2 separate regions of the Homo sapiens genome follow, and region 1 is linked to region 2. The links come from fine-mapping of genetic effects on gene expression. A gene starts in region 2. The other region holds a variant in brackets. All regions are shown on one strand. Distances are from middle to middle.

Region 1 (8,455 bases), 520 kb before region 2:
AATTACAGGCATGAGCCTCTGCACCTGGCCTTCATTCTTTTCGTATTGCTTAGAATATGACATGCTGAACCAGGCATGGTGGCTCATGCTTGTAAACCTGATGCTTTGGGAGGACAAGGTGGTTCATTGGAGGCCAGGAGTTAGAGATCAGCCTGGGCAACATAGCCAGACCTCCTCTCTACAAAAAGAAAAAAGAATGACATGCTTCTTGTTTTTGTCTGTTATAAATGAAACTGCTATATTTGAATGCAGTTGTTCATGTAGGTATGTTTCACTATGGTAATATGGTGGTGTGCAGTGCCTGAGTCACGTGATAGATTAAAGTACAACTCTTTTTTGAGACAGAGTCTCACTCTGTCACCCAGGCGGGAGTTAGGTGGCATGATTTCGGCTCACTGCAACCTCTGCCTCCCAAGTTCAACTGATTCTTCTGCCTCAGCCTCCCGAGTAGCAGGGATTACCGGTGTGCACCACCATGCCTGGATAACTTTTTTTTTTATTTCTATTAGCAATGGGGTTTCACCATGCTGGCCAGGCTTGTTATGAACTGACCTCAAGTGATCTGCCTGCCTCAGCTTCTCAGGTGTGACCTACTGTGCTTGGCCTAATGTACAACTTTTTAAGCAATGCCAAACTATGACTTAAGAATGAAATTATTGCTCATTTGTATATCTATCTACCATCAGTGTCCAAGAATTTCTGTTCTATCTTACCAAGAGGGAGTATGGTTAGTATTTGAAATTGTTTATTATTTTAATAAGTGGTTATAACTTTTGAGTCAGTGGTTTATGTTTTGCATTTTTTTTGTTTTGAGACAAAGTCTCGCTCTGTCTCCCAGGCTAGAGTACCGTGGCACAATCTCAGCTCATTGCAACCTCTGCTTCCTGGGCTCAAGCACTCTGCCCACCTCAGCCTCCAGAGTAGCTGGAAATACAGGTATGCACCACCACAACTGGATAACTTTTGTATTTTCTGTAGAGAGGGTTTTACCTTTTTGCCCAGTCTGATCGCGAACTCCTGGGCTCAGGCGATCCACTTGCCTAGGCTCCAAAAGTGCTTGGTCTACAGGGGTGAGGCACCCTGCCTGGCCTCACCTGTAGGCTTGTTTTTTAAAATGAATTTTATCTATTTCCCATTTCATTAATATATTTAAAAATAATGAAATAACAAAGACGTATGTTGGACTTCATTCATTCTTCAGTGATGTCACTTTGCTGCAAGGAATATTTGGTTTTCTTTTTTTTTTTTTTTTCCAGATGGAGTCTAGCTCTGTCTCCTAAGCTACAGTGAAGTGGCATGATCTCGGCCCACTGCAACCTCCACCTCCTGTGTTCAAGCGATTCTGCCTCAGCCTCCTGAGTAGCTGGGACTACAGGCATGTGCCATTATACCTGGCTAATTTTATTTATTTATTTTAGTAGAGATGGGGTTTCACCATGTTACCCAGGCTGCTCTCTACCTTCTGAGCTCAAGTGATCCACCTGCCTCGGCCTCCCAAAGTGCTGGGATTACAGGTGTCAGCCACTGTACCTGGCTGAATACTTGGTTTTCAGTACCACAAGAACTATGAGCTGGTTATCCACTTCATGTGGAATCATAAGCGTCCCAAAGTGACAATACATATAGATTGCCAGGCAGTGAAACAGTTAAGATGCCACCATAGCTTTCTTTTCAACATCTTTCTAAGATTACCTTACTATTTCTTTTGTTCCAAGTTTGTACTTCCTCACAGTTCTCACATATGGAAAGGATACACACTTTGTAGAAACAAGAACTTTATGTTATCCAAGTTCTAGGATAGCCATGAGCTCCAATTATCTCAGAGCTCTGAGTCCTCTACTCAATACCCATTGAGATTTATGTGTTCTGAGGCTTTTGTCTTCTAGCTACTTACTTCATTCTCCATGGGTAACGTCATTCATCCACATTAACTAATTTCCTCACTCCAAGCTCTTTTCTAGAGATAATCTCCAGTCCCTGTGCAGAAACTGTCATTGCACTTTCTGCTGAAATGGCAGTTTCTTCTCAGCAAGGTGAGATTATGGAATCCAGAATCTTTTTTCAGGGGTCACATGCCCATTTCCCCACTTGCATGAATGTCGACACTGCAGCCACAGTTTTGGCCGTAAATGTGAATTTGGCAAGTAACCACTGTTCCCAGGGAAATGTCCCAATCAGAAGAAGATTATCTGGGACACTGATACTGACAGGGAGATGGGACATTCTGAGGGACCCGGAGGCAGGGTGCCACCTCCTCAACTTCCCTGAGGGCTGCCTAGAATCTGTTTCCTCTCACTCTGAATTATTCTTCCTCTTATGGCTGACCAAAAACATGGAACCTCACAAAGTCCACTGTAACAGCTTTATATTTGTGAAGTGAAGAACATGAAGACAGTTTCAAGCAAAGTTATTGAGTGGACACTTTGTGTTTTTTTTGAGAAGTCTCACTCTTTCACCCAGGCTGGAGTGCAGTGGCACGATCTCGGCTCACTGCAACTCCACCTCCCGGGTTCACGCCATTCTCTTGCCTCAGCCTCCTGAGTAGCTGGGACCACAAGCGCCCACCACGTCAGCTTAATTTTTTTGTTTTGTTTCTTGAGACAGAGTCTTGCTCTCTTGCCCAGGTTGGAGTGCCGTGTCGCAATCTCAGCTCACTGCAACTTCTACCTCCTGGATTCAAGCACTTCTCCTTGCCTCAGCCACCTCTTTAGCTGGGATTACAGGTGCGTGCCACCACACCCAGCTAATTTTTGTATTTTTAGCAGAGACCAGGTTTCACCATGTTGGTCAGGCTGGTCTCAAACTCCTGACCTCGTGATCCACCCACCTCGGCCTCCCAAAGTGCTGGAATTACAGGCGTGAGCCACTGCACCTGGCCTGTATTCTTTTCTTTAGTAGAGACGGGGTTTTACTGTATTTGCCAGGATGGTCTCGATCTCCAGACCTCGTGATCCGCCCGCCTTAGCCTCCCAAAGTGCTGGGATTATAGGCGTGAGCCAACACGCCCTGGCCACTTCTTGTCTTTGCAACATTTTTTAGATATGTATTTGTGTTTTTTGGGGAGCTTAATTTGCTAATGGAATCTCTGTTATTTTCCTAACATGCTTGGTGGATACAAGAGTTAAGACTTCCTGTCCCGTTTAGTGTAACAAAAGAAAGTTAAGAAATGTGGATAAAAGATTGTAAGTTAGAAATGGCAAGATAATCAGCTATATGAAGAATCTTGGCCAGGTGTGGTGGCTGAGGCCTGTAATCCCACCACTTTGGGAGGCTGAGGTGGGCGGATCACAAGGTCAGGAGTTCAAGACCACCCTGGCCAATATTGTGAATTCCTGTCTCTACTAAAAATACAAAAATTAGTCGGGCATGGTGGCGGGTGCCTGTAGTCCCAGCTACTCGGGAGGCTGAGGCCAGAAAATCGGTTGAACCTGGGAGGTGGAAGGTGCACTGAGCCAATATCACACCAGTGCACTCCAACCTGGTGACAGAGAGACACATCATCTCAAAAAAAAAAAAAAAACTCAATCCATAAATGTTATACTTTATAACTTTATAACAGCATGTTATATGGGCTTAGATATTATCCCTAA[AT/A]TTTTTTTTTTTTTTTTTTTTTTGAGACAGAGTCTCACTCTGTCACCCAGGCTGAAGTGCAATGGCATGGTCTCGGCTCACTGCAACCTCCGCCTCCCAGGTTCAAGTGATTCTCTTGCCTCAGCCTCCCGAGTAGCTGGGCCTATAGGTTCCCTCCACCACGCCCAGCTAATTTTTGTATTTTTAGTAGAGATGGGCTTTCACTACGTTAGCCAGGCTGGTCTCAAACTCCTGACCTCATGATCCACCCCCCTCGGCCTCCTAAAGTGCTGGGATTACAGGCATCTGCCACCGCACTCGGCTTATCCCTAGAAATCCTATGATAGCATGATGTATAGGCACCTAAAGGCATGGCACTTGAGAAATGTGAATAAGATTGTAAGTTACAAATAGCAAGGTACAGTCAGATGTTAACAGTCTCAGCCCCTAAATGTCACCTTGTATTACAGCATGTTATATAAGCACATACAGGCACATACATGAAATAGTGATACTTCATTCTCAGTAATATCTTCATCCTTCTCACTGGAAAGATCTTTGATGATTTTTAATCAACATAGGAGTTTCAATGATATCTAGAAGTTTAAAAGGGCTCGTTCAAACAAATTATGACCACACACACTGAAGAGTATGTTTGTCTCTTGTGGTGTAAATTTTTTTTTATTACACCAAATTATGTTCACACAAAACCTTTGTAATCAGGGGGAATTAAAGAGCCTTCCTGGAAAATGGAGGTTGCAATCAGCCGAGATGGTGCCATCGCACTCTAGCCTGGGGAATAGAGTGAGATCCTGCCTCAAAAAAAACAAAAAAATTCTTTATTTTCTCCATAAACTACAGTTTATATAAGCAAAAGTTTCAGTACTAAGCAATTTTAGTCTCTGCAGTCTCTTGTCTTGAATTAATACAACTTTTGTTAATTCTCTTATGAAGTTAATCTTCCTGCTTGTATGTGAATTAAATATATGTCAAACTTTTTTTGTACAAAAGATTCATACCTCTTTCCTGTTTGAAATTATTTTACTGTGTTTCATCAATCTAATGTTTATTTTTATTACACCAGTAATTTCCTCATTGTGTTGAATCTTACAGTGGCTTATAAATCTACATGTACCTAGAAATGTTTAGCCAGTCCATGTATATTTGATGTGGCACATTTTTTCCTTTGAATCACATACTCTAAGAGAAGTAACTTCCTCTTGCTAACCTCTACTTTCCCTAAGTGTTGAATTAATCCTCTTTAGATGATTATAATTCTCTTTTCAATAGCTAGAAAGAATCTATAAGGAACTTTCCTGGCTGGGTGTGGTGGCTCATGCCTGTAATCCCAGCACTTCAGGAGGCCGAGGTGGGTGGATCACGAGGTCAGGAGTTCCAGACCAGCCTGACCAACATGGTTAAACCATGTCTTTACTAAAAATGCAAAAATTAGCACCTGTAATCCCAGCTACTCAGGAGGCTGAGGCATAGAATTGCTTGAACCTGGCAGGCAGAGGTTGCAGTGAGTTAAGATCGTGGCACTGCACTACAGCATGGGCAACAGAGCAAGACTCTGTCTCAAAAAAAAAAAAAAGAAATCACAGTCCATGTCTGAGGGGTGTACATTGCTTATCAATTTGGAGAGAAAATAATAGATAATGTAATACAATGTTAAAATAGATTAAAAATTGAGATAGAAAAACTGCTCAATTTATGCTTCACATAAAATTGAAAATTAAATCAAGCCTACACATAAAGGCATTTTTTATATATATACATATATGTGTGTGTGTGTGTATATGTACACACATATATACGTATATATGTGTGTACATATACACACACACACACATACTTTTTATGTTATTTTTGGAGAGAATCTTGCTCTGCTGCCCAGGCTGGAATGCAGTAGCATGATCATGGCTCACTGCAGCCTTGACCACCCCCAGGGTTCAAGTGATCGTGCCACCTCAGCCTGCTGGGTAGCTGGGACTACAGACAGGCACCCTGCCTGGCTAATTTTTGCATTTTTTGTGGACACAGGGTTTTGCCATGTTGCCCAGGCTGGTCTCAATCTCCTCGGCTCAAGTCAACAGCCTGCCTCTGCCTCCCAATGTGTTGGGATTACAGGAATAAACTACTATGCCCAACTCAAGATTATTTTTTAAATGGTTTATTTTCTTAGTAAATTGGGGTGCACAAGTCATTAAAAGCAAGGATTAAATTTAAAGGGAAAAATTTGTTTTACTTTTCTACAGAAAATTAAAACCAAAGCACATTAAAAGTGACAACACGGCCGGGCACAGTGACTCACACCTGTAATCCCAGCACTTTGAGAGGATGAGGTGGGCGGATCACAAGGTCAGGAGATCGAGACCATCCTGGCTAACACAGTGAAACCCCATCTCTACTAAAAATACCGAAAGTTAGCCAGGTGTGGTGGCACGCACCTGTTGTCCCAGCTACTCAGGAGGCTGAGGCAGGAGAATGGCATGAACCCAGGAGGCGGAGTTTGCAGTGAGCCAAGATCAGGCCACTGCACTCCAGCCTGGGCGACAGAGCGAGATTCTGTCTCAAAAAACAAAAAAGCAACAACCCAAGATGGAAATGACAAAAGTTACTTAAAATGTGCAACATAAAAGGTAGTCATTTAGGCTGGGTGCAGTGGTTCATGCCTGTAATCCCACTTTGGGAGGCCAAGACAGGTGGGTCACTTGAGGACAGGAGTTCGAGACCAGTCAGGCCAATACCGTGAAACAGTCTCTACTAAAAATCCAAAAATTAGCCGGATGTGGTATCATGCACCTGTAATCCCAGATGTTCGGGAGGCTGAGGCATGAGAATCGCTTGAATGCAGGAGCAGAGGTTGCAGTAAGCTGTGATCATGCCATTGCCCTCCAGCCTAGGCAACAGAGCTAGATCCTTGTCTTAAAAAAAAAAAAAAGGAAAGGAGTCATCTATAATTTTACTACTTATACAGATTACATTGAGATAAATCGCAAAATATTAGGCAAAACTTTAAAACAATTTTTAACTATCCAGTATATCAAAGAGAGATGCCACACATTGTATTTGTTTGCAAGAATGTCATTGTGATTACAAAACTGACCACTAACCATTCAGTTGAAGTTGATTGAGAACTTAAAACTATTTCCGTCTATGGCCATACCACCCTGAACGCGCCTGATCTCGTCTGATCTCGGAAGCTAAGCAGGGTCGGGCCTGGTTACTACTTGGATGGGAGAACTTAAAACTATTTCCTTTTTTTTTTTTTTTTGAGATGGAGCCTCACTTTGTCGCCCAGGCTGGAGTGCAGTGGCGTGATCTCGGCTCACTGCAACCTCCGTCTCCTGGGTTCAAGTGATTCTCTTGCCTCAGCCTCCCAAGTAGCTGGGATTACAGGTGTGTGCCACTAAGCCCAGCTCATTTTTGTATTTTTAGTAGAGACAGGGTTTCACCATGTTGGCCAGAGCCACCGCATTATTTTTCAGCCAGGTGCAGTGGCTCACACCTGTAACCCCGCACTTTGGGAGGCCAAGGTGGGTGGATCACCTGAAGTTGGGAGTTTGAGACCAGCCCGATCAACTTTGAAGAAACCGTCTCTACTAAAAATGCAAAAACCTAGCCGGGCGTGGTGGCACGTGCCTGTAATCCCAGCTACTCGGGAGGCTGAGGCAAGAGGATGGCTTGAACTCAGGAGGCAGAGGTTGTGGTGAGCCGAGATCACAGCACTGCACTCCAGCCTGGGTGACAAGAGCAAGACTCCGTCTCAAAATAAATAAATAAAAATAAAAAATAAACATGATGATCACAGATGCAGTCACATTTTCTGAGTTCTTGTCTCTCTGCCAGTGCCACCCAGATAGCCTCACAAAACTTTGACCCAGCCACTGTTAGTGTCGCCACCGCCCATAAAGGAGCTGAGCCCAGCAGGGGCACTGCCTGGGGCCCTGTAGCCAAAAGGCTACAGCAGGAGCTGATGACCCTCATGATGCCTGGTGACAAAAGAATTTCTGCCTACCCTGAAAGCCTTATCAAATGGACACCATCCATGAAGCAGCTGGCACAGTGTATGAAGATCTGAGGTATAAGCTCTTGCTGGAGTTCCTCAATGACTACCCACCTTTACGATGCACCCACAGTGAAGTTCCTCACACCCTGCTACCACCCTAACGTGGACACCCAGGGTAACATATGCCTGGACATCCTGAAGGAGAAGTGGTCTGCCCCGTATGATATCAGGACCATCCTGCTCTCTATCCAGTGCCTGCTAGGACAACTCAACATTGATAGCCCTTTGAACACACATGCTACCAAGCTCTGGGAAAACCCCATAGCTTTAAGAAGTACCTGCAAGGGTCAGGCGCAGTGGCTCACACCTGTAATCCCAGCACTTTGGGAGGCCGAGGTGGGTGGATGGATCACCTGACGTAGAGAGTCCAAGGCCTGACAAACATGGAGAAATGTCATCCCTATTTAAAAAAATAAAAAAATTAGCCAAGTGTGGTGGCGCATGCCTGTAATCCCAGCTACTCGGGAGGCTGAGGCAGGAGAATCACTTGAACCTGGGAGGTGGAGGTTGCAGTGAGCCGAGATCTCGCTATTGCACTCCAGCCTGGGCAACAAGAGTGAAACTCTGCCTCAAAAAAAAATAAAATAAAATAAAAATAAAAATAAGGAAGTACCTGCAAGAAAGCTACTCAAAGTAGGTCACCAGCCAGGAGCTCTGACCCAGGCTGCCCAGCCTATCCTTGTGTTGTCTTTTTAATTTTCCCTTAGATGGTCTGCCCTTTCCGTGATTTCTGTGTAGAACTCTGTATCTTGAGCTGTGGTACTATTTTTCTTTTGTCTTTTAATTTAAACCTTGGTGGAGCCCTTGTGATGA
Region 2 (8,935 bases):
AGTGACACAATCTCGGCTCACTGCAACCTCTGCCTCCCAGGTTCAAGCAATTCTCCTGCCTCAGCCTGGCGAGTAGCTGGGATTACAGGTGCCTGCCCCCACGCCCAGCTAATTTTTGTATTTTCAGTAGAGATGAGGTTTCACCCTGTTGGCCTGGCTGGTCTCAAACTCCTGGCCTCAAGTGATCCCCCTGCCTCAGCTTCCCAAAGGTGCTGGGATCACAGGCACAAGCCACTGCGCCCGGCCGAAGGTGGTTTCTTTTAAGCAATACATTTGTATTGAGAAAAACAAGTTCTTGGCCGGGCGCGGTGGCTCACGCCTGTAATTCCAGCACTTTGGGAGGCCGAGGCGGGCGGATCACGAGGTCAAGAGATCGAGACCATCCTGGCTAACACGGTGAAACCCCATCTCTACTAAAAAAAATACAAAAAATTAGCCGGGTGTGGTGGCAGGCGCCTGTAGTCCCAGCTACTCCGGAGGCTGAGGCAGGAGAATGGCTTGAACCCGGGAGGCAGAGCTTGCCATAAGTCAAAATCAGGCCACTACACTCCAGCCTGGGTGACAGAGCAAGACTCTGTCTCAAAAAAAAAAAAAAAAAAAAAAAAAAAAAAAAAAAAAGAAAGAAAAGAAAAAAGGAAAAAAAAAGAGAAAAACAAGTTCTTTTAAATCTCTAGGTAAAAATAAAATAATTTCTCACACACAGCCAAGTCAACTGCATACCAGAGTACCAAGCATAGTTTCCACATCAGAGGCTTAAGCTCTGGGGTAAAAGCATTTTCTTTAACCAGGTGTCTGTTAATTCACTCATATCAAAGAGAAAACTTGGCTGGGTGTAGTGGCTTATGCCTATAATCCCAGCACTTTGTGAAGCCAAGGTGGGTGGATGGCTTGAGCCCAGGAGTTAGAGACCAGCCTGGGCAGTATGGTGAAACCCTGTCTCTATTAAAAAAAAAAAAAAAAATGGCCGGACGTGGTGACTCATGCCTGTAATCCCAACACTTTGGGAGGCCAAGGTGGGTGGATCACGAGGTCAGGAGATTGAGACCAGCCTGGCTAACATGGTGAAACCCCATCTCTACTAAAAATACAAAAAATTAGCCAGGCGAGGTGGCGCGCACCTGTAATCCCAGATACTCGGGAGGCTGAGACAGGAGAATCACTGGAATCCGGGAGGCGGAGGTTGCAGTGAGCCAAGATCGTGCCACTGCACTCCAGCCTGGGCGACAGAGCGAGACTCCGTCAAAAAAAAAAAAAAAAGGCTGGGCGCAGTGGCTCACACCAGTAATCCCAGCACTTTGGGAGGTGGGCAGATCACGAGGTCAGGAGATTGAGACCATCCTGGCTAACATGGTGAAATCCCGTCTCTACTAAAAAATAGAAAAAATTAGCCAGGTGTGGTGGTGGGCGCCTGCAGGAGAATGGTGTGAACCCGGGAGGCGGAGCTTGTAGTGAGCCGAGATCTTGCCACTGCACTCCAGCCTGGGTGACAGAACGAGACTCCATCTCAAAAAAAAAACTATCCAGGTGTGGTGGTGCAAGCCTGTAGCCCCAGCTGTCAGGAAGCTAAGGTGGGATGATCGCTTGAGCCTGGGAGATTGAGGCTGCAGTGAGCTACAATTGCACCACTGCACGCCAGCCTGGGCAACACAGTGAGACCACATCTCAAAAAAAGAAAGCAAAGAAAACTCTTCATTAGAAACTGAACATGCTCGCTGGGAATGATATTCAGGGCACAGGGCAATTCCTTACAGGGGCACACACCCAAGGGCACTGCTGCCACCACATGGGAAGTTGTGACGGGAGGGAGGAGACTGAGGGCAGGACACAAGACATGGAGACACACATTCTGGTCTGTCTGACCATGGAGCTCTGTCCACACCCAGGCTGCCTGCTGGCTCCCAACCACCACACACAGTATCTGGCGTTTCTCACAGGTGTCGGCTTCTCTCTCTCGAGTCCATCTGCTGGCCGTGGACCTGGCTATTCGGGGCAGGCCCATCCTGCCCACCTCCCCACACTCTCTCAAGCCTCTGTCTCTGAGCACTGCAGGTTTTGTAGTGTTCCCTCGTCTACCTCTGAGAGGCCAGGCTGACTGAAGAGCTCCTGAGAAAGCCACCAGGACCCACTGCTAAAGGGGTTGGTCCAGGGTCATTGCCAGGCTGGGATCTGAGGTCCCCACACATAGGGCAGGGAACTCCCCAGCCATAGACTCTGATGGGGGTACCAGTGTGGACTCCAGCCCTTTACACGGAGGAGGGAGCATGCCACTATGGATGCTGAGCAGCAGGAGGTCAGGGGCCCCGCTTTCACAATGTGCCATCCCAGAAGCCCCACAGCCAGGATCTGGACCTCTCTGACACAACTCCAGGTCACAGAGACCCAGATGTCAGGGATGGAGGGACTTGGGCACCTGCCTTGCTATTAGCTCCAAGGCTGCTGGCTTCATGTCACAGTCTGTACAACAGCTGGTGGCATGAGCAGGGCTAGGACCAGCACTCAGCATGACTTCCTAGAACTCTAGGGACTTAGGGGCTGAGGACTTCCCAGGGTGAAAGACCATACCTGGGACAGCCTGGCCAAACAGGGACAATTGATCACCATGGAATCAGTGGACAGGCCCAAGAATGGATGGGCACATGAGGTCACCCAGGATCAGGCAGGTTCCACTGAAGGAGGCTGCAAAAGATATATCCAATGTCCTAACCCCGGAACTCTCAGAATGTGACCTTATTAGGTCTTTGCAGACATAATTAAGGATCTTGTGATGAGATCACCCTGAATAACCTGGGTGTGCCCTAATTCCAATGACAGGTGTCCTTATGAAGGAGGCAAAGGGAGTTCTGACACGGAGAAGAGTGGTCCATGTGAAGATGGAGGCTGATATTGGAGTGATGCAGCCACACTCCAAGGAACACCCGGAGCCGCCAGAAGCCGGAAGAGGCAAGGAAAGACCCCCACCCAGAGCCGTCAGAGAGCACAGTACTGCTGACACCTTGATTTCAGACTTCTGGCTTCCAGGACTGTGAGAGTAAATTTCTGTTGTTTTAAACTGCCCAGTTTGTGGTAGTGTGTTATAGCAGCCACAGAAACTAATAGAGACTGGTCTAGCACCCTCGACAGAATGTGTGTGTTGTAAGGGGCTCTCCTGATCCCTAGTGATGGGGAGTCAGAGGACTGCTTAGTGTCTGAACAGAGGGTTGGGGAAGCTGGGTTGTCCTGAAGAACCAGCAGTCCCCACTTGGCAGAAAGGGACCCTGAACTTGTGGGAGGTGGGGGCTGAGGGGCACCTGCTAGCCATGTGCTAACAGCATCTTCGGATTGGTCCCCAGATGCCCTGCTCCCAGGGGTGGCTCCTCTGCTGCAACAAGAACCTGCCTCCCAGCACCAGACACAGCAGGTGGGAGCTGTGGACCATGGCCGAGTCTCTTCGTCTCCTTGATCTGCTCCCAGGATGCACTGTCCAACTATCCCACCTGTAGGTGGGTGGCATTCCAGCCATGGACCCATGATCTGAGGCTGAGCACAGCAAACACAATCGAGGCTCTGGGTCCCAGGTCCCAGGAGCCCGTCCTTGATGGTGCATTACAGCTCTCCCAGGCTGTTCTTACAGTGACCTCCCACCTGCCCCAGGTGAGCATGCTTGCACCTGGGTGCTCGCCCAGCCTTTCTAGTTGTCCTTAGGGCTTCTGGTGTTGGGAACAGGATGCAGAGTTACCAATTTAGGGGGACTGAGAGGTTAACGTGGCCAAGGCTGAGCCCTGCAGAACTGCAGAGCAACAGCACACACAGGAAAGCTAGTGAGGTTCAACATCCTCATGGAGGTTGCACACGGCACAATGAGGTCTTATTTGCCCAAGAGAATGTGCAGGGAAGTCGCCAGGCACGGTGGTGCATGCCTGTAATCCCAGCTACTCGGGAGGCTGAGGCTGGAGAATCGCTTGAACCCGGGAGGCGGAGGTTGCAGTGAGCCGAGATCGCGCCACTGCACTCCAGCCTGGGCAACAAGAGCGAAACTCCGTCTCAAAACAACAACAACAACAACAACAACAAAAACAGAATGTGCAGGGAAGTCAACGTTGGTGGCTCTGAGGTGTGGAGGACACAGGCTAGTGCCCAGCTCAGCGTGGCTCCACCTCTCTGAGCCACAGACCAACCTCACCCACACTGACAGTCCCAGGGGACACAGACTCTAGCCCCTATGTCCAATTCTACACTGTGCACGCAATGGGAAGAACAGTGCATCATGCACTGTACAGCAGAAGAAATGTCCTCTGAGTGCAGGCACAGCTCCCTTCTGTGTCTGTCCTCCCGACAGTGCCTCCACCCTCAAGGATTAGCAAGCTTCAACCCTCGCAGGACATCCACTGTGTCAGGGCCAAACGGTGCTGCATCCTGCTCTAATAGTGAGTGAAGGAGGGGACCGCAGACAAGAAGAAATGAACAAGAGACCGTTTAAGAGAGAAAAAGACGTGAAGAACATCAGACAGGGAGCAGCGCGAGGGCGCCAGGGAGGGAGGCAGCGGATTCTTCGGGCCTCTGTGAAGAGGGGGCATGAAACCGGTCTGCAGACAAGGAAAGAGCAAAGTGCAAAGGCCAGGATGCGGGGGCAGAGACGGTAGGGAGGCCGGCGTCGGCCTCGGCTAGCAGGTGGGCTTGACTCCGAGAGCCGCAGGCCGCCAGGATGGGTCCCGGGCCTGGAGCCTCCCCTCGCGGGCTTCAATGACACCCAGCACGGAAACGCGGGGGCCAGAACTACAGAAGCCCGTCCCGCCCGGAACTCAAGGTCGCGAGTGCTGTGTGGCCGGTCCGGACCCGGAGCGCGAGGACCGGAAGTGCGCGGCGTCACGCCTCTGCCCCGGACCCCGCGCGCGGAGGTGGAGAGGGGACTGGGGTGGTGGCCGCGCTATGCGCCGGGAGGTCCCCGCCTCGCAGGCCGAGGTTGCGGGTCCGCGCAGAATGCCACTTACTCTCTGGAGGCGGCCCGCACGGGTCCCTGGTCCCCGCCCCGCATGCAGCGCGGAGCCGTCCTCCCGCCACCTCCGGGCCGCCGCGGCACTGAGGGACCCGGGCCACAGCAAGCGCAGGCGGGAACCCGCGCGGGGACTGCTGGGAAACGTAGTCCCGTCATGTCCCGCTTTGACGCTGCGGAGAAAGCGGTGTAGGGAGAGGCTTGGGCTTCGGTTATCATAGAAACAGAGGCCGGCTACACCTAAAAGGCGGGGCGTGGACCTAAGTCGTCGCCAAAGAAACGGCGTTCTGGACGGGGACGTAGGGTCCCGCCCATTCCTTCTCGTGAAAGCGGGTGACTGGTCATGATTATGATTGATAGCCTCCTCTCCCAATCTGATTTCTAAGAGGTCCCAACCCGGAACCGACTTGCGGTTCGCAGGCTCCCCTCGGGTGGGAGAGTTGGGCTGGGAAGCACCTGGGGAGCTCTGAAGTGTCTTGGTGAGCGCGTTGCGAGTCAGACCGATAACATCAGAATCTGGGACTGGGCCCGAGCATATGCGCGTCAAAACTCCTCAGTTAAGTCTATTTTTTTGTATTTTTTTTGGTTTGCTTTTTTGAGACGGGGTCTCGCTCTGTCGCCCAGGCTAATGCAGTGACACCATCACGGTTCACTGCAGCCTCGACCTCCTGAGCTCAAGCGATCCTCCTACTTCAGCCTCCAGAGTAGCTGTTAACAGGGGCGCGCGCCACCACGCCCGGCTAATTTTCTTTCTTCTCTCCCTCCCCCTCCTTCTCCCCCTCCCTTCCTCCTCCCACTATGTCGCCCAGGCTGGTCTCGAACTCCTGTACTGAAGCGACCCTCCCACCTCACCCTCCCGAATAGCTGGGACTATAGGTGGGAGCCACCATGCCTGGATAGTTTTTTTATTTTTATTTATTTATTTATTTTAGAGATAGGGTCTCCATATGTTGCCCAGACTGGTCTGGAACTCCTGGGCTCAAGCGATCCTCGTGTCTCAGCCTTCCAGAGTGCTGGGAGTACAGGCTTGAGCCACTGCGCCAGGCCCCTAGTCCGGCTCCTAGTTGATTCTAACACGTGCGGCCCCATTGGGGAACCACAGCCTCCCCAGCCCCTTTGGGTGTTGCTGACTCTACGGGCCCTCCCAGGTAGGATGAACTGGTCACGCCTCCTACCCATTTGTAACCCCCAGCTCTTGCCCCCATCTATTGTGTGGCTCCTGCCCTCAATAGGGACATCTAATTTTGTTGGCCAGTCCAGCACATATATTGCATGTAACGACCCAGTTTGCCCCACCTTTCTGCCTCCACTGCATCTGCTTCAGGGATGCTGGGACTGTTCCACTCCCTTTCTCCATCCTTTGGGTGTCTGCACATCGAAAGCCTTGTCAGGAGGTCTATCTCCCTGCCCAAGTACAAAACTCAGGGCTTACCAAGCTAATTGAGGGCGAGCAGGAGGCTGAAGGGCACTTGGAGGGCTGCCCGCCTTGTGGGTCCCTTGGTGGCTGAAGAGAGTTGCACAGGAAGGCCTTGACAATTGTCACAGAGAAAGGAGTGCAGCTGCTGGCTCTGTGTGGGTGTGCAGATGTCTGACAGGTTCAGCCACTGGCCCCAATTGGGACACAAGTGGGATTTCTTTTTTTTTTTCTTTTTTGAGACAGTCTTGCTCTGTTGCCCAGGCTGGAGTGCAGTGGCCGCGATCTCAGCTCACTGCAACTTCCGCCTCCCAGGTTCAAGCAGTTCTCTGCCTCAGCCTCCCGAGTAGCTGGGATTATAGGTGCCCACGACCTCGCCCGGCTAATTTTTGTATTTTTAGTAGAGATGGGGTTTCACCATCTTGGCCAGGCTGGTCTTGAATTCCTGACCTCATGATCCACCCGCCTCGGCCTCACAAAGTGCTGGGATTCAGGCATGAGCCACTGCACCCGGCCTGACACAAGTAGGATTTCTCACACCTGTGGATGCACTGCTACTGGAGGAGTCTTGAGCCTATGTGGAAGAACTTCCCACTCCCAGGCACAGAAAGGGCCTCCCTCTGGAGTGAAGATTCTGGTGGTACCACAGGCCTGGCCACCACACAAAGGCCTTGTCCCTGCAGGGCTGGCATGGGGTGACTGGCAGCCCTGGAGTGGAGTTTGAAGCACCAATGAAAGGCCTAACCACTTGGCAGGCACAGGTGCGGGGGACTTGTCTGGAGGGGACCGGCTATGGGGGCTGTGACAGTCTGTAGGCTTTCTTCACTTCTACACAAGCCTGTTGTCTAAGTGGACCCTGCAGGGTTCATGCAGGGGCAGCACCAGAGAAGCATCTTGTGACAATGGTTACACAGGAGCGATTTCAGGAATGAGACTGAATCAGGCAAGGACCTGGAGAGGAAGCTCCAGTGGGGCTCCCACCCAAGGGGTCCAACTTTACCAATCCCACAGGTCCCCAGTCTGGGGCTCATTCTATGTCTGTAGGCCTGGGACCCTGCACCCAGGAGAGTTGTCCTGCTACCGGCCATCCCTCCGCAGAGGTCCCCCTCTGGCTCTATGCTGTCTTCAGCAAAGGGCCTCTGCTCCATTTCACACCTCTCCTGAGGGCCTGGGGTAGCTTACTGCGAAGCAGCCTCAGGGAATAGAGGCTTCAGCAGGGCATCTTGGCCCCCAACACAGAATCCTGGTTGTAGGATCTGGAAGAACAGAGGAGAAATGGAAGTTGGCAGTTCCCAGGAGGGGAGAAGGTGCTGGTGAGCCACGAAAGCAAACCCCAGTGGCTGAAGCATCCTGGATGACTCGGCCACATTTCCTTAAGAATCTTTGTGTGTGTGTGTGTGTGAGACGGAGTCCCATTCTGTCACCCAGGCTGGAGTGAAGTGGTGCGATCTTGGCTCACTGCAACCTCCACCGCCCAGGTTCAAGTGATTCTCTTGCTTCAGCCTCCCGAGTAGCTGAGACTACAAGCGCCCGCCACCACGCCTGGCTAATTTTTTTGTATTTTTAGTAGAGATGGGGTTTCACTGTGTTAGCCAAGATGGTCTCGATCTCCTGACCTCGTGATGTGCCCGCCTCGGCCTCCCAAAGTGCTGGGATTACAGGCATGAGCCACCATGCCCGGCCCTCTTCTGTCTCTTATAAGGACACTTGTCATTGGATTTAGGGTCCACCCTACTAATCCTAGATGCTCTCATCTTGGGATCCTTGACTAAATTACATCTGCAAAGATTTTTTTCCAATAGGTCACATTCGCTGGGTCTGGGTATTAGGGCATGAACTTACCTTTTTGGGGGCCACCATTCAATCCATTACAGGTGGGCATCCCATAGAAGCAGACAGTGGCTAGGCCAAAGTAGCCCATGAAGTATCAGCCATGGGCACAAGATCAAGTTTGGGATGCGGCAGGGCCAGGCTTGGCTCTGCCAGGCAACTGGGTGGACTGAATCCAGCACACTCCAAACGAGTTGATAATCAGGCTGGGGACTTCAACAGACAACCAAGGTGCCAGTAAAGGCATTAAGGAGCTATCACGGCCAGGTGCGGTGGCTCACACCTGTAATCCCAGCACTTTGGGAGGCCGAGGCAGGCGGATCACGAGGTTAGGAGATCGAGACCATCCTGGCTAACAGTGAAACCCCATCTCTACTAAAAATACAAAAAAAATAGCCGGGCGTGGTGGCGGGCGCCTGTAGTCCCAGCTACTCGGGAGGCTGAGGCAGGAGAATGGCATGAACCCAGGAGGCGGAGCTTGCAGTGAGCCAAGATTGCGCCACTGCACTCCAGCCTGGGCAACAGAGTGAGACTCCGTCACAAAAAAAAAAAAGGAGCCATCACAAGGATGTAAGATCAGCTAACAGTAAGACTGTGGCTGGTAGGGTGGACAGGCAAAGTGACTGCCTGGAGAGTGGGCAGGTGGCCCAGCAGGGCCCAGAGGGTGCCTTCCCAGAAGTGAGGAGTCCAGTCTGGGGCCGGCCACTCAGGATGGACACAAT

Alleles and levels. Alleles are on the strand shown, and positions count from the first base shown. SD is a standard deviation of normalised expression in the study named.
As copies of A replace AT in region 1, the expression in prefrontal cortex of the gene that starts at base 5,057 in region 2 goes up (large effect, 1.4 SD a copy in CommonMind).

What was found.
Region 1: its variant is fine-mapped to the expression of ZNF837 in prefrontal cortex (CommonMind, PIP 0.95).

Annotation. Positions count from the first base shown.
Region 1 is chr19:57,860,538-57,868,992 of GRCh38, forward strand. It overlaps ZNF587 (zinc finger protein 587), which reads left to right. Exons shown (of 3, transcript NM_032828.4): 3 at 1-4,580. It also overlaps the pseudogene UBE2CP5. Among named protein-coding and RNA genes, the nearest start is that of ZNF587, 15 kb to the left of the region's middle. The variant AT/A (reference allele first, on the strand shown) is at 3,591.
Region 2 is chr19:58,375,974-58,384,908 of GRCh38, forward strand. It overlaps ZNF837 (zinc finger protein 837), which reads right to left and starts at 5,057. Exons shown (of 3, transcript NM_138466.2): 1 at 4,968-5,057. LOC105372484 (a long non-coding RNA gene) reads left to right here and starts at 1,610. Exons shown (of 2, transcript XR_936130.2): 1 at 1,610-2,136; 2 at 2,812-3,052. RefSeq lists enhancers at 3,781-4,322, 4,139-4,368, 4,323-4,864, 4,399-4,458 and a silencer at 4,809-5,318.